Linked DNA regions of Homo sapiens. The protein of the gene in region 2 purifies or fractionates together with the protein of the main gene of each other region. This does not show direct contact. Each region holds a gene or a part of one and is shown on either strand. Other genes may lie near its edges.

Region 1 (7,027 bases), about 92 Mb from region 2:
GACTGGGTAGCCTGGACAGTGCATGCCCCTTCTAAAAGAGGCTAAAGCTAATTGTTGCCATATAGACTTGGAACTAGTATTACCAGGTTTTTCAATTTTTCAAATGATTTAAAGAGAACCCAGACAGGCCGGACGTGGTGGCTAACACCTATAATCCCAGCACTTTGGGAGCCTGAAGCAGGCAGATCACTTGAGGCCAGGAGTTCAAGAACAGCCTGGCCAACATGATGAAACTCCGTCTACTAAAATACAAAAAATAACTGGGTATGGTGGTATGTGCCTGTAGTCCCAGCTACTCGGAAGGCTGAGGCATAAGAATCTCTTGAACTTGGGAGGTGGAGGTTACAGTGAACCAAGATCTTGCCACTGCACTCCAGCCTGGGCGACAGAGAGAAACCCTTTCTCAAAAATGAATGAATAAATAAGTAGAACCTGGACATACAGTTTTTATATAAAATTTGCCCATTAAAAAAAAATTGAGATGGAGTCTCACTACGTTGCCCAGGCCAGAGTACAGTCGATATTCACAGGCACCATTATAGCACACTGTGGCCTTAACTCCTGGGCTCAAGCCATCCTCCCGTCTCAGCCTCCCTAGTAGCTGGGATTACAGGCATGTGCCACCATGTCTGACTACAGCATTTTAATATTGGCAACATTGGGAAGACTAAAATTTATGTGTCATGAATTCAACTTACAGTTTTTTCAAGCCCCAGTTTCCTCATCTGTTAACTGGCAGTTAATAGCATGAACTTTATAGGATTATGAAGAGTAAATCAGATAATGTTGTAAGTTTATAACATGATAGCTGGTTCAGAATGTACACTTAATGAATTTTGGCCATTATTCTGAGAATTCTCACAATTAAGAAACCTGTTTGGCCTGATACAGTGGTTCATACCTGTAATCCTAGCACTTTGGGAGACCGAGGTGGGGTGATAGAGTTCGAGACCAGCCTGGGAAACATGGAAAAACCCTGTCTCTTCAAAAAAATACAAAAATTAGGCGTGTGTGGCGCACCTATAGTCCCAGCTACTGGAGAGGCCAAGGTGGGAGGATCACTTGAACCCTGGAGGGAGAGGTTACAGTGAGCCAAGATGGTGCCACTGCACTCTAACCTGAGTGACAGAGCAAGACTCTGTTTCAAAAAACAAAAACAACAAAACTGTTTAACTTTAATTCAACTTTTCCTTGAAGAAGATATTTTTAATTTAAAAAAAATAAAATATTTTTTATAATTCACGTTAACATCCCTAGGATGTCATGTTTACTAGTGTACACTTTGGAACAATACTGCTGCAGATAAAAATCTTAAGAAGTTTTATGCCATGCATAGCCAATAAATTTTTCTCTTCCCTTTAAATTTTTATTTATTTTTTGTAGAGACAGAGTCTCACTGTGTTGTTCAGGGTAGTCTCAGACGCTTGGGCATAAACGATCCATTCTCCTCGGCCTCCCAAAGTGCTAAGGTTCCAGGCGTGAACCACCATGCCCAGCCTGTTCTTTTTTTTATCTCTAGGTGGTGCTCTCCAGCTGTAGTAGAAATAGCATTTGTATTGGATCTATTTTTTTAAATAGGGACTAAATACAGACCATTTTGTTAAAGTGAAATGCCAAACAAGAACGAGATTTTTCTCTTGGCTAAAAAAAATAGAAGCTATTGAGGAATTCAGGATTAAAACTACATGTTAATATAAGCCTCATAATTTAACATAAGCATATTTTAGCATGTTTAGTCCATAGCATACAAAAGTCTAAGTAAAGACGATAAACTGTCTTTAAGCCAGGCACGGTGGCTTACACCTGTAATCCCAACACTTTGGGAGGATGGAGTGGGAGAATCCCTTAATGCCAGAAGTTTGAGACCAGCCTGGGCAACAACAAGACCCTGTCTCTATTTAATATGGTTTTTGTTTGTTTGTTTTAAAGAAACTATCAATATTAAGCAGCTGATATAGTGGAAAAAGCTCTGGTTTGGGAACCAGAAGATAAAATTTTGAATCTTAACTCTGCCACTTACTAGCTGATAATTTTGGGCAAGCTACATAAACTGTCTAAGCTATAATTTCCTCATTTATAAGAGGGGGATAACTTATATATATGATGTCTAAAACCTTGTAAAAAACTTTTTGTGGCCAGGTGTGGTGTCTCGTGTCTGTACTGCCAACACTGTGGGAGGCTGAGGCAGGAGGATTGCTTGTGGCCAGGAGTTCAAGAGCAGCCTGGACAAATGAACAAGATCTGGTCTCTGTATAAAATTTTAAAAATTTAGCGCGTTGTGGTGGCGCATTCCTGTAGTCCCAGCTACTTCAGAGACTGAGGTGGGAGGATTGCTTGAGCCCAGGAAATCGTGGCTGTGGTGAGCTGTGATCATGCTACTGCACTCCAGCCCGGGCAACAGAGTGGACCTTGTCTCAACAACAAAACAACAACAACAAAAACCCAAAAAAACCTTTTGTTACTCTTTATAAAACCGCATTTTAAATATACACAAATTAGGAAATTCAAGTAACATTTTAAAGGTTAAACTGTATTATTACCCTTGCAATGTTGATGGGTTTTTATTAGCAAAGGTTGTTGTGTTTATAATTTCTTTTACCACCTGGATTTAACAAACTTGTATATACATATAATCACATATACATGTATAAAGAGATATATTTATGAATCAGTCTGGTGTAATGGTTGGAAGCTCCGAAGTCAGGCAAACCTGAATAAGAATCCCAGCTCTGCCAGTTACCAGTGATGTGAACTGTTATTTAAATTTGGAATGTGTGTCCTCATCTCTAAAATCAGTTGTTATAAAAATTAAATGACATAATGCATGTCAAGGATTGGCATAATGTGTGGCTCATAGAAAGCTTTTGATAAGTATTTGCAGTTATTATTACCATTGTTCATTTGTGTTAAAAAGTTGACTCAAAAGTTGAAAAAAGCCCCTAACTTCATACTCATTCATTAGAAAACCCACCTGCACTTTGTATGGTGAAGGGAAGTGTGTTGTTGTTGCCCTTGATGGTACTTATCTTCTCTTTTTTTTTTTCGAAACAGTGTTTTACTCTGTCACCCAGGCTGGAGTGAAGTGGTACAATCACAGCTCACAGCAGCCTTGACCTGCTGAACTCAAGCAATCCTCCCACCTCAGCCTCCAAAGTAGCTGGGACTACAGGCACACACCCTCACACCTGGCTCATTTTTTTTATGTTTTGTAGAGATGGGGTCTCACTATGTTGTCCAGGTTAATCTCAAATTCCCAGCCTCAAGTGATCCTCCCACCTCAGCCTCCCAAAGTGTTGGGATTATAGGCATGAGCCACCGTGCCTGGCCCTATCCAATTTTCTTAGCCAAGATTTATTCAATATAAACCTTTTCTGTCACATGAACAGTTTCTGCTTGTGTAAAGAAGTTTTATCTCACTTCTTAGTAAAATATATGGTAGAAGTCAAACCATGGCCTCATTTGGTGGTAATTCTTGCTAACTTAAGAGTGAGCAGAAAGAGATACCATTTTAGACTGAGCATAAAACATTAGTGACATGATAGAAAAAATGCTGCACCATGATTTTCTCACACTTTCCTATAAACGTTGTGGCATGTAGTCAGCGGGCCCCAACATGACTATACTTTTGGCACCTATGTAGCATATTTGTTCTGTTATTTACTGAAGCAAAAAAATAACATTCCTACAGATTTGAAAATGCTGATTTTTTTGTGATGGGTTCTGTTTGTGGTCATAGTAAAATAGTTTTCAAAAATATTATAATCTGGCCGGTCATGGTAGCTTACACCCATAATCCTAGCACTTTGTGAGGCCAAGGAGGGCAGAGCGCTTAAGCCCAGGAATTTGAGACCAGCCTGGGCAACATGGCAAAACCTTGTCCCTACAAAAAACATAAAAATTAGCTGGGCATGGTGGCACATGCCTGTAGTCCTAGCTACACGGGAGGCTGAGGTGGGATGATCACCTGAGCCCAGGGAGGTCAAGGTTTCAGTGAGCTGTGATCATGCCACTGTACTCCAGCCTGGTGACAGTGGGATCCTATCTCAAAACATTTTAAAAAAAGGAAATAAAAAGATTAAAATCTCTTAGTTGTGCATATGCTTTGTTTATTCTTTAAAGTAATACATGTATCCACTACATTTGGCAGAAGACTAGTCTGTCAGGTGACTTTTTTTTTTTTTTTTTTTTTTTTTGAGACAGGGTCTCACTCTATTGCCCAGGCTGGAGGGCAGTGGTGCAATCTCAGCTCACTGCAGCCTTGACCTCCTTGGGCTCAAGAGATCCTCCCACTTCAACTTCCTGAGTAGCTGGAACTGCAGGCATGCACCACCTCACCCAGCTAATATTTTATTTTTATATTTTTCTGTAGAGATGAGGTCTCACTGTTTTGTCCAGGCTGGTCTAGAATTCTTGGGCTCAAGCGATTCTTCTTGAGGATCCCTCTTTTGGGACTTCTTGGCCTCCCAAAGTGCTGGAATTACAGACGTGAACCACCGTGTCTGGCCTGGTTTCTCTTTTTATATCAGTGATAAACCATGGAAATAGAAAGAAATGAATATCCTGATTTTTAAATGGTTCAATATGGGAATCAACTTGACCTTAACCTTTATTAATAATTTTGCCAAATACCAGAGTAGTACTTTTTGCTTCAGAAAGCACTTTCTTATAATTCTTGTTAACCACATTTAGCTGAGGCTCTGAGATATTAAGAGATTAAGTGACTTGCCCACAGCACACAGCTAATAAATGACTGATTTGGGAGTTAAAACATGGGCATGCTGATGCTAGTCTAGTCTGTTCATCCACTATGCTTATTATTTGAAAACTGTTTATGCTGCAGATAGAATAAAATGACAATGTAACTTAACAGAGTTAAATTACTTATAGATTAAAATGCTTCTTTCTGTTTTTAATGCTTTATTACATATGCCTAGTTTTGCTTAAGCTTGTCTAAATTTTATGACGGAACTATAAAAAATGTATTTCACTTTTACGTGACATGTTATTGGTGAATCTTGTGTTTGTATGTTTTTTTCTTTTTGAAAGGAGAGTGCATTTAAAATGCTGAATTGAACAGGACATCTTGAGAGAATGTTTTAATTTGAGCTCATGTATCTGCTGATCGATTCTAAGTGCAGGATATTTTCTGTTTGTCATAGATATTTGAATGGTGGTACTTCCATAAGCATGGCACATCTTTTATTGAGCAAGTATCTGTAAGCCATTTGCAACCACTGATGGGAGGAACAGAGAGCAGCATTTCAGAACCAGGTTCTCCTTCGAGGAACAGAGAAAATGAAACCAGCAGACAGAATTTGTCAGGTGACTACTTTTCTAATGTGTTTTCAGAGCTGTGTATTTAAGATTGAGTTTGGCTCTGGGAGATAGAAAACTCAAAACAGCAGAGTGCTGTGGTGTGCATGTTTGTGTTTCCCCCAAAATTCTAATCACCAATGTGATGTTACGAGGTAGGGTCTTTGGGAGGTGATCAGGTCATGAGGGCAGTGCCCTCAGGGATGTGATGAATGCCCTTATGAGAGACCCCAGAGAGCTGCTTGCCACTTCTACCGTGGGAGGACACCACGAGAAGGCGCCGTCTGTGAACCAGAAAGCAGACCCTCACCAGACACCAAATTTGTTGGTACCTTGGTCATAGACTTCCCAGCCTCCAGAACTGTTAAAAATAAATTTATACTGTTTATAATCTACGCAGTTTGTGATATTTTGTTATAGCAGTCCAAATGGACCAAGACACAGAAATTTGTCTTTCATGTTAATATAGTTAGTCCATGGCTAGTATGGAAAACAATAATCATCAGATACCCAGACCCCTTCTATTTTGTTAGCCTGCCATCTCCAAATGTAGTTTTTACTTTGTCGTGTAAGACTGTTGCTCTTGCTTCAGCCATCATATCCACATTCCAATCAGTAGGAAGGAAAGAAATCCGGGGTAAGGTCACTACTTCCCTCTACTCCACCCCACAGAAGCCAAGGACTATTCTCAGAAATGTTACATACTATTTCACCTTACTTCCTACTGGTCAGGTCTGTTTCATATGGCCATTACTAGCTATAAGGAAGGCTAGAAATTTTCATCATTTTCTCAGTGTATATATATATATACGCCCAGCAAATCAGGGAATCTTATGACTAATAAAGGAGAGAACAGAAACAGCCATCTCTGCCAAGAGAGAAAAGTAGGAAAAAAAATTTTTTTCAGTATACTTAAAAAGGCATCAAAGTCTCAGCTCTTCATGGATGGATATTCCATTGTCATACTTTTATTGTAGACTGTTCCTCTATTTGTGTCGAGTAATCGCAAATTTATTTATTTATTTAGTTAGAGACAGAATCTTGTCTGTTGCCAGGCTGGAGTGCAGTGGTGCGATCTCGGCTCACTGCAACCTCTCCTTCCAAGTTCAAATGATTCTCCTGCCTCAGCCTCCCGAGTAGCTGGGACTACAGGCATGCACCACCATGCCTGGCTAATATTTTGTATTTTTAGTAGAGATGGGGTTTCACCATATTGGCCAGGATGGTCTCAATCTCTTGACCTCATGATCTGCCCACCTTGGCCTCCTAAAGTTCTGGGATTACAGGCGTGAGCCACCATACCCAGCATTTTTTTTTTTTTTTGAGACGAAGTCTCTGTAGCCCAGGCTAGAGTGCAGTGGTGCAATCTCAGCTCACTGCGACCTCTGCCTCCTGGGTTCAAGTGATTCTCCTTCCTCAGCCTCCCAAGTAGCTGAAATAACAGGCATGTACCACTGCACCCAGCTAATTTTTGTATTTTTAGTAGAGATGGGTTTCACCATGTTGGCCAGGCTGGTCTTGAACTCCCGACCTCAGGTGATCTGTCTGCCTCGGCTTCCCAAAGTGCTAGGATTACAGGCGTGAGCCACTGAGCCTGGCCAGCTAGAAAGCAAATATTTTTAATGATACATAATTAGGAAAGGAAAATTTACAAAGCCAAATACAATTATTATTATTATTATTTTAATAGAGATGAGGTCTCAGTATGTTGCCC
Region 2 (6,857 bases):
CCCTGGGCTGCCAGATAAATGGTGAGATGTGACCTGGTCCATCCTTTCAGGTCAGAAAAGTATCCTAAGGACAGGATGACTTAAGCGGTACCTGGCATGTTAGAGGTCACTCAGTGTGATAATTCACTAGCATTGTTCATGTTCCTCACCTCTGCCCCCTCAAGCTGTGGGTCTTTGAACGAGCCTGGTGGGAACAGAGCTAATCAGCTGGCAAGTCCAGATACAAGTGTGGTCAGCTTGAGACATGGAGGTTTGTTTACCGCTGTATCTTCAGCTTCTAAAATCATGAGAGGCACACAGTAGGCACTCAAGAAACAGTTGTTGAATGAATACATTTTTTTAAAAGCCATGGAGTTTCCTTTTCCTTTCAAATAAACGACATAAGGGTGTGGGGAGTAGAAGGGGGAGGTGAGTAAATGACAGGGTTCAAGGGACACCAGGGCCAGGCAAATGCAGCTGCCAGGCCCACCAGCCCAGGCTCCTCTGCAAAAGGGATGCAGCAAAGTCAACAGTGCATGTGCTCCCACTGGCAGGATGAGCAGGAGTGCGTGCACGCCTGGCTTACGGTTTAAGCTGCAGTTTACAGGAGAAGCAGGGCAAAGTGGAGACAGAGCCTGGGAAGAAAGGGAGATATCTGGGGAAGAATGAGGAGGGTGAGAGAAGAGGAAGAGCAGTGTGAGGGGGAAAAGGGAAGTGAAGAGTGTTAGAGGAGGAAAGTGAAGAGTGAAGGAAGGAGAGGAGGATGAGGGGGAGGAGGAAGAGGGGAGGCACAGGGAAAATAGGATGGGAAGTGAGGAAGAACTGTGTTGAATTAGAGAGGGAACCTGCTGTACTAGCCTGGATGGAATTAGCAGATCTCTGAGATCTTACTGCCACTCGGTGTTTCCCCGGGAGGAGACTGCATTAGGGAGAGGGTGTGGATTTGGGGGTGTTCCTAGGTGCCAGACCCTGGGCAGACCTCAATCTCCCAGGCACTGAGGCCTTTAGTTCCATGCTTTGCAAATAATGAGGACCCATCCCAGGACCAGAGAGAGCCCTCCGCAAGAAGGAGAAGCCTGAGTCAGCACAGGGGAAGGAAGAAGGCCTAGGAGGCTCAGATCCCTAGCTCTGCCCTTCTGTTTCCATCGTTTCGCCACAACAGCACCTGGCCAGGAAAGTGGGTCAGGCCACCCACATGTGGCTTTTTCTGGTAGCCACAGGGCCCAAAGGCAAGGGGGCTCCAGTGCCCAGTGCAGAGCCCACCTCTACCCTCCATGCCCAGTGCTCTTTTTTGAAGGGATCTTTAAGAAGCAGTGGGCAATGGGAGGAGCTCCTGGCCTTCTTATTCAGGGACAAAACGCTGGGCCAGAGCCCATCCTAGACTGGCGGGAAAGGGGGGCACGGAGCCTGCCATCGGCCTGGGTGCATGGGGAGACCTACATCTTCCCCTATGACAGTGACCAAACTGGCAGGGAGTCACCTCTACTGCCCTGACCTAGGGAGGCTGTTCTCCTCACCACCCTAGGTCCTGGAGTTCTCAAGCAGAGGGCCTGTCAGTCCATCTCTGGCAACTGAGCGCTGTGCCCAGCCCACCCCCTCCAACCCTGCCAGTCGCCCAGTTAGAAGCTGCGTTGGCTCCAACAGATGGGAGCTGCGGCAGCCTGAGGAACAGAGCACAAAGCCCAGCTGACATTTTCCTTCCTGTTCGTTTGGGTGGGGGAGGAAGGGTAGGGAGCACAGTGCTACCCCCGGGGCCCCTCCCCAGGTTCCGGGTCTCCTGCACCTCTTTAGCTTCTCCGCTCGGCCCCAGATGGAGCTCAGTTCCCTCACCCCGCGGCTCCTCGCCGGCTGGGCAGCCAGAGCCTGCGCCACCCTTTGCCAGCAGGACAGACGGCCCACCTGTGGCTGGCCAGCCCATCCTGTCTCCTGGGTCCTGCGGTGGGCTCAGAGCCACCCTTCCGTTTCCGCTTCCCCCTGACCGAGTCCCCAGGCTGAGCCCCAGGCCGGCCCATCCCCCACCCCAAAGGTCCCATCCCAGGCTGCGGTCGGACCCCAGCCAGCCGGCCCGGGAGGAGCCTAGCTCCTGGTTCCAGATACTTCAGACAGACCCAAGGCCACCTTGTCCCTCCGCACAGACTCGCGAGCTCCAAGGAGGAGAAAGTCCCCAGGCTCTGGAGCGCTTCCAGCCTGCCAGTCCGCCCGTGTCACGCCCTCCCTAACCTCACTGCCACCTCTCGGCTCCTCCACATCTCCAGGGCCCCACTCTACCCAGCAACAGTTTGGGGGAGGTTCTGGCCTCTCCAGGCGAAGGCCCAGGCGCCCTCTCCCTGGCCGCTTCTGGGCATTCTCCAGCCCTCCGTCCCTCTGCCCCTCGGCCGCCTCCCTCTCCCAAGTCTCCGGCTCCCCCGCAGGCGTCTCGGCGGAAGGCAGCGGCCGGCCCTCCTCTGGCCCCCACCCGGGTCAGGCGGAGCTGCGGTGCCGGGGCAGGAGCCAGGAGCCCTGAGGCGGCTGCTCCGGCCGCTCCCGCCGCGTACGCCTCGGCCACGCCAGCGACCTCGGTGTCCACGATTCCCCGGCGGCGGCGGCGCTGCCCAGGTCAGCCCCGAAGCTGCACACTCACCCCGTGGGCGCCGGGCACCGTCTGCCGTCTGCTGCCCGCGCGGCCGCGCTCCGCTCGCCTTCCGCCCGGGGCCGGGCTGGGGACGCTGGTCCGCGCCCTCCCGCCGCGCGCGCCGTCTGCACAGGCCGGGGAGGCTCGGCGGGCGCCCTCCCCAACGTGGAGTTATCCTGGGAGCGGCTCCAGGGCCCAGCCGGTGAGGGCGATGGCAGAATCCCAATCCGTCCCCACCCCCTCTCCGCGCCCTGGGCGCGTCGCGGCCGGAGGCTGGCGGGCGAGAGCCAGGCGCTCCTTGAGAGCGCCGCGCGTTCGCAGGTGCCCGGAGCAGGCCCTCGCGGCGCCCGGCACCCCCTCCACGCGCGCCCCTCTTCCCGGCTTCGCGCTCGCCCTCCTCACTCGCTTCTCCGCCGCTCTCCCAACCTCCCCAGCCCACTCCGGTCGCCTCCTCCCAGTCTGCATGCCACGCCAACCCCCTCCAGTCCCGCTGCCATTTTAACTCCTGAGTGGCCAGAGGCCCCCTCTACCTAACGCACACACACCCGGGAGGAAGGAGTTGGGTGGGGCCAGACGCTAACGCTTGAGCTGTCCTTGTGCCTAGAGACACAAGGCTTGGCTGAGAGAAGGGGCACAGCCCTTGGGTCCGGGAAGAGAAGGGTTGGCTTCTCTCATACTGCCTCGGACCCTCTTGCAAAGGCCAGGAGACGAATGGGGAATTCAGCAGCTTTGTGAGGACAGGTGCAGCTCACAGTCACAGCATGCACCTAAGATCACATTTTTGCTTTGCATGGTGCTACCCTCCCGAAGTTAACAGTGGACTAAGGAATGTAGTGGGGTGGGTGAGAATTTGTCACTGGGCCCAGGCACCTCTCACCCTAAAGAATGGAGTGGAAGACCCCTTTAGTTGTCATGCTTTTCCAGCATTGCATCCTGAGCCGTGCAGCTCTAGCATTCTGGAAGATTCCGTCCTGGCTCTCAATGAAGGAGGTCAATTTCAGTCAGGAACTGGCAGGCCCAGTTAGGGGTTTGGCTTCAGGGTTCCCCACTCTGCCAGCTGGACATCATGAAGACTGGGGGAGGAAAGTAAGAAGGTGCCAAAGGTGGGTGCTAGGCTGCTGCCTGGTGGCTTAGAAAAGCTGGGTGACTGCCACTAGAGGAGGGCAAAGGCCCAATGCCCAACACCCATGCCTTGGTGGGGACTTCAGCCTGGACCACTCAGAACAGACATCACAAACTCGGCTCCATGGCAGGCCACACCCTACTGATGGGTCTGGACCAGAGCCTGCAGAACCAACAACAGGGGAATGGATGAGGTGGAGGCCAAGGTGTGGAGTCCTGTGAGGAGTGGCTTCCCTGGGCTGCCTGCCGTCATCCAGTGCTTGAGCTTCTGGCCCTGTCTTTTCCAAGGGTACAGCCAGTGGTGACTGCCATGCCTGGTGGCTTTTGTGAAGTTGGCTTGAAGGTCTGAGTTCTGTATGCACAGAGGGGATTCTCACCTTCATATATTGAATGAGCACATATTAAGTTCCCACTAAACCACCCCCATGTTCCCACTCTCCACCCCTGCTACGGAGCATAATGGCCTCAAGGAGCTCAGAGTGACAGGTTGGAACTATATGAAACCAATTTTAATATTTCAAGACGATGGAAGTGCCATAGAAATACAAAAAGAAACCACCTTAATGGACTAGCATTATTCACAAAAGGTTTAACGGAGGAGCTGAGTCTCCAACTGAGCCTAGTTGGAGGGATAGGATTTGAACTGGAAGAGAATATGGGGACCAGCAAAGGCAGGAAAGTGGAGACAAGCAGAGTAGAATGGGTTGTCTGGAGGGTAGGGGGCAAGGGAGGAAAATTATAGAGCTACTATTAGATGCCAGCCTTTTCTCATCTCTGTCATCTTAGACTCTGAGTTGACTAATATCCCCTTTTAACAGACCGGGGGATGGAGGCCCAGATCGTTTAAGGCAGTAGCCCAAAATCTGTAGGCAGAATGTGAGACCTCATTTTCACAGTGCGACAATGCCACATTGAGTATACAGGGTGGGAGCAGCTGATGAAGGGCCCGAATTGCCAGGCTCAGCAGTTTATCTGTGGACCCATCCTCAGGTGATTTGGGATGAAAGAGGCAGGAGGATGGGAGACTATTGAGGTAGCTGTTGCAGGAATCTAGGAGGAGGGGAGCAGTGAGAATAGAGTAAATGCATGGGCCTTTGTAAAGAAGACTTGGCAGAACTGTAAGACTGACTGATTGAAAGGGGTCAAAACTTGACTCCAAGCTTTTAGCCTGAGCATTTGAGTCCCTTGTCGAGTCACTGGAGCCACCTTTCCAGTCTAAGGGCCAATGTCAATGTAGACAGGATGATGGTGAAAAGGAGGACATTTTAGGAGTCCTTTACCAACTGCACGACCGGAGAGAGCACTCATGTCAGCACCCCAGCTTCCCAATAACTATGCATACTCAAGTGTCTTATCTCCTAACCAGAGGGTAAGCTTCTGGAGCCTATGACTGTCTTACACCTTAATAAGATAAGACCAGTCCTTTATAGTAGATGTCCAATAACTGATTATTGAAATAATAAATGGGATAAATGCAAGTAACGTTCACTAAGTGGTTGATCCTGAGTGGCAAAGCCTGTGAGATGTACTAGATGAGGCATAAGGGAATTTCATCAGCTGTGAGAAGAAAATAGGGGAAGGCTTATCTTGAGCTGACTCCAAATGTCTTAGAACCCAATGAGATTGGAGAAAGAGTGTAGCTTTTAGAGCTGGAAAGATTTGGATTTGGAACTCTACTTGTCCATTTACTCTGTCTTGCTTCAGGCAAAGTATTGAACTTCCCCAGCTCTGATTCTTTCCTGAGTAACGATATTAATTCAAGTAATAGCAGTTAACATTTATTGAGCACCTACTACATGCAAGGCAAGGTGCTAGCACATTTATGCATCATCTCATCAAAAATTTGACCAATACTAGGACTCTAGTGATAGGAGAAAAACAAGGTTCAGTGTTTACCTAACCAGTATGTAACAGAGCTAAGACGGGAATCCAGGGTCCTCAAATGACAGAGTCCAAACACCAAGCCAAGTCTCCCTAGCACTTCTTTAGGATGAAGATAGCAATAATGGAATGGATTCATACTTATAGGTTGCTGTGAGATGTTACAGGGACTATATGGCTGGCATGAGCACAGTGGCTGGTGCATGGTATGTGGTTGACATTTTTCTCCCAACCCTGCTCCCATTGCTGCCATTCTGAGTCTCATACTTTCCTGGGAAAAGCTGCCCCAATTCACAGTCCTTTGGAAGCTCTTAGGTAATTACCCAGAGGATTTAATGGCCCTGTTATTGACCTTTCACCCTCCAAATTTAATTTCTGGGCTTGGCCATGCATTATTTCCCACCAGGAAGCCTGGAACTCCGTGACATCAGAGTGTCTTGGGAGAGGGATGCAGGGATTACATGCTGCTAGAAATGATCCTTAGCTCAATTCCAGGTGGCTCTCTCATATAGGGGTCAGGATATGGAACTGGTGGGGATGCTGTTTGTGTGGTGGGGGCTGTGAGGAGAGGATGGCTCCTACTGGTGCCTGGCACATGAGCCGAATCAGAGAAGGGAGGCCTGGGATGTGGCATGGGTCACTGAGGGTCCCTCAGTGGACCCTCCACACACACGACACTGTGTGTTGTGTGCAGCCTCTGCTCAGCCTCCTTGGGAGATATGGGGTGGGGTCTGGGGAGTCAATGAGGACTGTTGTCCCCCACCAGTGACCCAACTAGGCAGAGAGTAAGGCACTAGAGCAGTGGACCTTGGAATCACCTGGAGAGTGTGGGCCAATGCAGGTGCTGAGGTCCTACCCCAGAGTCAGATTCTGTAGTTCTCAGAGTCTGCATTTCAGATAAACCATCCAGGGGATTCTGATTCAGGTGGTTGGATGACCTCACTGTGAGACAGACTGGCCTGGGGGTGCCCATTGCTCTCTGACCGTCCCCTGCCCGGGCTCCCCATGTGCAGAGCCTTGTTCTCTGGGCTATTAGAGAACAAGTGAAGGCAGAGGCAGAGGCAGAGGTGAAGGGAATGAAGCTCAAGTTTTAGGGCTTCTCGACTTGCAGGATGGTGGGGAGAGGGTGGGCTATGAAAGCTGGGAACTGTAGAGTGTCCTAGGTGAAGAGGGGAAGCCAGTTTACGAACAGGAAGCATTTTTATGTAAGGATTTCTGGTAAATGGAATGAAGAAATGTCAGGAGAAAGGGACCCTGAATGTCC
Region 3 (7,027 bases), on a different chromosome or scaffold from region 2:
CCCAACAAGCCTCAGAGTTGGGAAGAGAAGAAAGGAGAGTCCCCATTTCATGGATGCAGAGACTAATATTTAGGGAATTTAAGTTAAGTAGAAGGGCTGAGATTACCCTTCCATTCTCCCAAGATCCAATTTCATTCTCATTCCACCGCACCATCCTGATGCCAAAACAAAGATGAAGCAATTTTAGAAAACTCTCTTTCCCATCTGTGAAATTAAAATAATCAGCAAACTATAGACCCATTTTCCTCTACCTCAGCAGAAATAAAAGCTTTATAAAGAGATCATAAATCTATTCAAAACCATTATTTGGATAAATGGGAGGGGGAAAAAAGAAGAATAAATAAAAGGCAAGGGCAATACTTATACTCACCACACACAAAGCCATCTGGGCTAACAGCAAAAATGCTTCTTCCTTTTAGCAGCTGAGGATGGGCACAACTGGCATTTACAAAGCTCTGAAAGTTGTTTTCCGCCACCCACTGTGGGAGCCATTTTAGCTGGCAATCGCACAAAAGGCTTGATGTATTTAAATGCCTGAGGAGAGTAATTACATTCAATTTGTTCTGTATGAAATGCAGATTTCTACAAGTAAACTAAACCCAAGTAAATATTAACAAAGCAATGAATTTGGAAACTGAATACACACATCCCATGGAATAAGTATCCCACAGTCCATTTTAAAATACAAGAAATGTATCTAGCATGATTTTCTGTTGTTCTTACTGTCCTACTGAGACAGAAGTGTTGATTTATCAAAAGTTCCTTACAACTGAAAAAATTACTACTATATTGGGTGACTGTACTATATTTGGTCCCACAAAGTTGCGAATTTAAAATAGAAAGAAAAACTCATTTCAACAAAAAGAACAAATAAACTCCTTTTCTGTTGCCTAGTATAAAAATTAAGTAATGTTAAGAATGTGCCAGGCACTTTTTATAGATACATAATCCAGGATGCCACACCATATGACAGTTTTCCCCTCTATACTTTCAGACTCCTAGAAGGAAAAGAAAAGCTTACAATTGTTGCAGTTTCTTCATTTGTGAAAATGCATTGCCTTGTAAAGACATGATTGCGTTGTCACTCAGGTCTCTGAAAAATCACCAAATCAAATGCATCAGAGCAAACTACCATCATTTCGTGCTTTTGGACAAAGTTTGGGCCCCCACTGCCCACCCCATTTGCCAAACAAATACTCCCTCTATGTGTCAAATACATGACTGGGGCAGCCCCAGAAGAATCCACTGCAAAGCTTGTGCTGAAGACCCAGGGCATTTGTATCACAGATAGGTTTTGTTTTAGTGAAAAAGATTCACTTTCTGTCATCACTTAAAGATTATTTGACTCATTAGGGCCCATGCTGTTCTATTATTTCATTCTATTACTCTTTATTCAAATTAGCAACTATTGGAAACTTCTAAATATACAAATAAAATATACAAATAAAAAATAAAAATAATTATGCTTTTATAAAACATTTACACAGTATTTTTGAAGATATGCACTCAGTTAAGTGATTTACAAGTGTTACTGCATTTATTCCTACAACAACCCAAAATATGATGGTATTACTACTTAGCTCAGCACGAAAGGGGAAGGTAAGGGTTGAAACAATTATTTTCAATTCCAAAACCTGTGCTTTTAACCATTAACCTAATTCTGTCACCCACAGCTCACTAACATAAACGCAGTAAGATGTTCAGACAAGATATACTTGTTAAAACCAATACTTCAGGCAGGAAATTCATAAAATGAGCACATATTCTGGATTAATTCTCTTTATACAGAGACTTATAAGCACTCTGCATTAAAGTATTCACCACAATGATTACCACTCTGTTTTTCTTTACAGGGGTCACAGTATACAAAGGGAATATTGAGTGAGACAAGTGGGAAGAGAAGACAAAGAAAGAAGGGACCAGACATGGCTAGACGAAGAGGCTGGGGCAATCAAGGAAGATTTAAGAAAACTGAAGCAGAGATTAATACTCCACTGATCCACTAATTCCACGTTCCCAGAAACGGAATGGGCCAAATGACAAACCCTTTTGGCTAGTTTTCTTTTCAAAATAATCGGTTTCAATAAATACTGCAATGTTGGTCTGCCCTTCCAAAACTCAGCTTTGCAGAATCATTCTACTATAATTTGAACTGCCGCACTCACTGTCTGGGTGGCTCACGATCCAAGTCTCCCTCAGAGGAACTGGTGCAGTCAGAAGGTGACAACACAGTGGTTTACAGATAACAGCTAAATCTTCACTCTCAATACACAGCACACATAGGAGAACCCAATATGTATTTTAAATTGTAACTTCTTTTGTCCTGGTTAATACATATTAAAACTTCTGGATACAAGCATTCCTTAACAGTCAGAGTCGATATTATACATTACTTTGTACTTTTACTGTACAAGCGTAAAACATACATCCATGGTTATAAGCAGCTGGTTGGTTCCCTTAGTTAAAACATGCAAGTTTTGATTCCTATCAATGTTAGCTAGCTTTCCTCTCTTAGTGGCTGAAAATTCCTGAGCCCCTAAATGACATTTCAGAAATGTGTGCCAGGAGTTACTAGGAGCTACTGGGAGTAGCGGCAGAGATTGTACAGGCAAGAGCTAGTGTGATGCAGGGACACTGTGCAAGTCGGGGCAGCTCTGGGTTGCGTCCTGCTTCTGACAGCTACTAACTGGTGGGTCAAGACGAAACAAAAGAAAACAACAAAAAAGAGAACAATGGTAAGGGGGGGTTGTATGTTTCATAATTAAACAACAATAAGAGACCAACAATTCTCAAAGTAGTGCTAAAACTCTCCTATGTCACTCTTAAGGATTGTGGAACATTGTCTTTGTTCTTTAAAAGCCAAGTCATCTCCTTTAACTGTCCAGTGGAATCAATAAACTCTTAGAACCTCCGCTTAACAATAAAGATAATAATAGCTATTGAATTGTATTCTGACTAAGAATTAAATGAGAATATATGTGAATATGTGGTACAATGCCTGATATATAGTGGATGAACTACACCTAGTAGTTTGTTTTTTTTTTAATTAAATAATCACTGTTTGAGAAAAACAATTAAAAACCCATTAAGGAGATATAGCTTTTGTTCTTAAATACAAAGGAAAGCATACACCTGTATACTTCTATATAGGTAGGTAGGTAAGTAGGTAGACAGAGAAAGAAATAGAAAGATAGGGAGATGTTTAAATATATTTTATGGAACCGGAAGGATGCCAACAAAATTACATTCCAGTTTGTTTTATCTTTCATGACACATAAGTAAAAACCATCTTAGAGATTCTCTTTTAGGGTAACTAAATTCTAGCTACTCACAGATGCTCCAATGCATCCAAACCAGTGAAGGCTTTTTTAGTAATAGAACGGATCCGATTTCCTTGGAGTATCCTGGGGAAAAAAATTACATTGGAGCACTTAATTTAAAAAGCCATTTTGGGGTGGAACTCTCATAAACAGAACTGCTTTTTAAATTATGTGTGAGCAATTCCATTTTCTTCAATTAAACAATATATCCTGTAAAAATGTGTCCATGCCATCTATTTCAATAATGTAGTCGAACATGGTTTTTGAAGCATTCAACAAAGAGCCCAACAAAAATAGGTATTCAGTAAGTCACTCTGCTGATTAAGTTAAATCACTGTTTTTCAGAGTCCTTTTAGGAATAGGTAGAGACTTTATTTCAAGTAAACTGTCTCAGAACACTAACAAAGCAGATAATAGTGAACGTTTTCTCCTTCCTCTCCTTCTCTGTGGATACCTTCCATCCATAGGAGTTTGGGACTATAGGGAGCTGAATTTGAATACTGCTGGCTTAACACATGTAATTTGACCATCTGCAAGACCATTTTATGGTTAATTATAAGATGTTTTCATCCTGTTTTGCTTGTAACCTACCACAGCATTATCAGTGGCTACTAGATTACTTCATTAAAAAAATTCCTACGGGGACAGTACAACATTGAGGATTTCAAGATGTGGAAGTGCCTGCACTAACTTTTACGCAATGATAATTCCAAAAGTGTAAGCCCTCAACATAGATGAAAATTATTATGAGGATATTAAAGTAAATTACACATACTAAAATGTTGAATAAAACACTTTCACCTAAGGAAGAAAAAGTTAATAATATACATCTTGCGCAACAGCAGGCATTTGGGGAGAGGATCAAGGGTGGTAACCAGATTAAGCACTGATTTCTCATCTCTTCATGATGTCAACTTGTATAGCTGACTTCAGTGAAGACAAAATTTTTAAATCAAAGAGTGAGCTAAATTATGAGGCAATTCATACTCACAGTCGCCTCAGTTTGTCAAGCCCAGAGAAAGCACCATTCATGTCTTCAATAGTCCAGGAAATTTCATTGTTCTTCAGATCCCTAATTTTAAAAGAAGCATTCCCTTTAGAGTGATAAGCTCAGAAAGCCTAGTATCACCACCCAGGTGGCATATCATTTGTAAAAAATTTCTCATAATTCCCCACATTATCTCCACCTCTCTCAAAATAATAGAAAACTCTTTTTCTCCAACTTACCTCTTACACCCTGCCTGATTCCCTCAACAACATTTTAAGTTTTTCCCTAAAATCCGAAAAAGCTGACACTGGCCCTATTAATTCCTCTATCAAAATGACTACATTCTGAATGATCCGAACAGTCTGAAAAATACATTAAACTTTAAAACCACTCTTCCAACCACGCATGCAGAAGTTCGCCAAAGCATACAGTATGTCTTTCAATTACGTAATGCTTCAAATAGCGAACAGAGCAAAAGTTTCTGACAGAGCAAAAATCAAAAGCCCATTGCACAACCTTAAATTACCATTTGAGAAATTTTTCAAAGGTCAATTAATTTAACTCCCTTTTCTTTCTCTTAGGACAGAGATCAGGTTGAGGATATAACTGGCATGATAAACAGTATCTTCCTTGCCCTTTGTAGACCTTTTTGCTCTAAGTAATTTTTAATCTGTATTTTACAAAGAAAAACTTAGTGGACTTAAAATTGTTTCCCTCTTAAGCAGTTACCAATTTCCTGGAGATCCTGAGAAGGTTCACTGTAATCACCAAAACAAACTGATCACTGTCCTTTTTAATCCCTATACGAAACACATATGGATGAAATGGATCCATTGTAATCAAACTGATCTGGGAAAGATTAAGATACTACTTCTGAGGCTGTATGCATTTCCTTGACAACAAAGGAAATCTGCTAGGAGAAAAGTGGGCATATTTAGGAACCAATTACGTTCGAGTACTGACAGCAAAACGTGTAACTTACAAAGTCTTTAAACTGGAAAGCCCCCGGAAGGCACAATCAGCAATGTAGCTGACTCTGTTGTTCCCAATGTGCAGTGTATTTAGTAAGCTTAGGCCAAGGAAGCTTGAATCATCTAACCTTGATAAGTGATTGAAAGTTAGGTCCCTGTAAAGAAAAAAGAGAAAAGCAATAGCTTTTATTTTTCAATTCAACACAATGATTTGTTTTCCAAAAGACAGGTACTGTATGAGCTACACTAATCCTTATTTTTAAATTCTGCCTTAATAATATCCAAGTAAATATTTCTAATATCAGTAATTAAAAAAATACGTTCTCTTTACTTGAAAATAACCATCATTGCTTTTGCCAACGTGACATAGAACTGCAACAGTAGAACTGGCTTCAACTTATCACAACAAAAATAAGACTAGGTTGCATGTGAAAAAAGCTGTCACCTTGGAAACTTTGTTATGAAAATTTCACAGATCAGTGGTAAGAAGCTCATGCCCTGGCATGATCCCTGCTCTCAAACCTGAGGAGAATAAATAAAAGGCAACTCACAGCTCACTGAGCTTCTGGCAGAACTCCCAGGCATCAGGGCTGATCCTGTTGATGGCATTTTGGCTGAGATGAAGTTCCTGCAGCATCAGCAAGCCGTAAAGCCAGCCTTTGGTAATCTCTGTTAGGTTGTTATGGTCCAGCTGCCTACATTTACAGTAAGAATCAAAAGCAGGATCAAAACTTCATTATCTAGTCTCTTCAAAGGGGACATATGATTACAACCTATTACAGATTCCTATTGTTATTAGATGTTTAGCTTTTGTTATATGAAGACGTCAGCAAAAAAATACTATATAGTTTATACTATACTAAATTTAGGTACTTATAAATTATCGATCACATTACCTGAATCAAAACTGAATACTGACTTATAAATAAGATTGTGGATGATGAGATTTTAACATAGGATTTCACATAAGACCTGCTGAATGTACACTGAGCATTCTATGATCATACTACCTCAGTAGGAACTGTGATAACCCACACTTACAAAATTTCCATGTTGCTCAGCCCCCAAAAAGCTCCATCCATAAGTTTCGTTACTCCATTTCTTTGCATTTTCAGAGACTTCAGAGCACCAAGGCCTTGGAATGTCAGTCCATCTACATTTTTAATCTTGTTTCGGTTCAATTCGCTGCATTGAGTATTACAAGAGTTAGCTTATATGACAATTAAATTCTGGAGGTAGTAATAAAATGTGTCATTACTACAATATAGTTCAACCAGTCAGTGTTCAATTACATACAGTGTTTTCAGTTTCTAAACATTTTTATTGCAAAGAATTTCAATTTGTTAAGCAGGCAGTGAATTTCCTACTGAAATGTGTCATGTGTTTTTGGAATAATAAAATACTGAAACTAGACTGCACTTTAATTTCTAAAGTCTTGTCCACTCAGTATAGACACAAACAAATTAAGATTTGTTTTTAAACAATCCAGAATGAGATTATTAAATGTTACACTAAAACATGAGGTCTATCAAGGAGCTGGGCCTCAAGTTTATCCTGTACAATCTGTTTACAAGTTGGTTACTATCTTTCACCCTTCTTTTTAGGTTTAATGCTTTCTCTTTAAGGCAGTAGTTCTCAGCCTTGGTTGCACACTGGACGCAACCTGGGAGTTTTAAAAATTTCTGAAGCCTGGATCTTACCCTTAGAGGTCCTAATATAATTGGTCTAAGGTGTGGCCTGGGCAGTGA

The links. Proteins that work in one complex are often made in the same cells at the same time.
Region 1: the proteins of LRRN2 (region 2) and ST7L purify together in Homo sapiens (affinity purification with mass spectrometry; 2 studies listed by BioGRID and IntAct, with this or other methods). This does not show direct contact.
Region 3: the proteins of LRRN2 (region 2) and LRIG3 purify together in Homo sapiens (co-immunoprecipitation; 3 studies listed by BioGRID and IntAct, with this or other methods). This does not show direct contact.

The regions. Positions count from the first base shown.
Region 1 is NC_000001.11:112,609,136-112,616,162, reverse strand, and holds part of ST7L (suppressor of tumorigenicity 7 protein-like), read left to right. Parts: intron 1-5,159; coding exon 5,160-5,322; intron 5,323-7,027.
Region 2 is NC_000001.11:204,682,721-204,689,577, forward strand, and holds the start of LRRN2 (leucine-rich repeat neuronal protein 2 precursor), read right to left. Parts: upstream 3,019-6,857; 5' UTR 2,600-3,018; intron 278-2,599; exon of another isoform or gene 150-277; intron 1-149.
Region 3 is NC_000012.12:58,882,499-58,889,525, forward strand, and holds part of LRIG3 (leucine-rich repeats and immunoglobulin-like domains protein 3 isoform 2 precursor), read right to left. Parts: intron 6,465-7,027; coding exon 6,321-6,464; intron 5,975-6,320; coding exon 5,831-5,974; intron 5,435-5,830; coding exon 5,291-5,434; intron 4,393-5,290; coding exon 4,312-4,392; intron 3,405-4,311; coding exon 3,333-3,404; intron 1,094-3,332; coding exon 1,022-1,093; intron 535-1,021; coding exon 371-534; intron 1-370. UniProt on the Homo sapiens protein: May play a role in craniofacial and inner ear morphogenesis during embryonic development. May act within the otic vesicle epithelium to control formation of the lateral semicircular canal in the inner ear, possibly by restricting the expression of NTN1.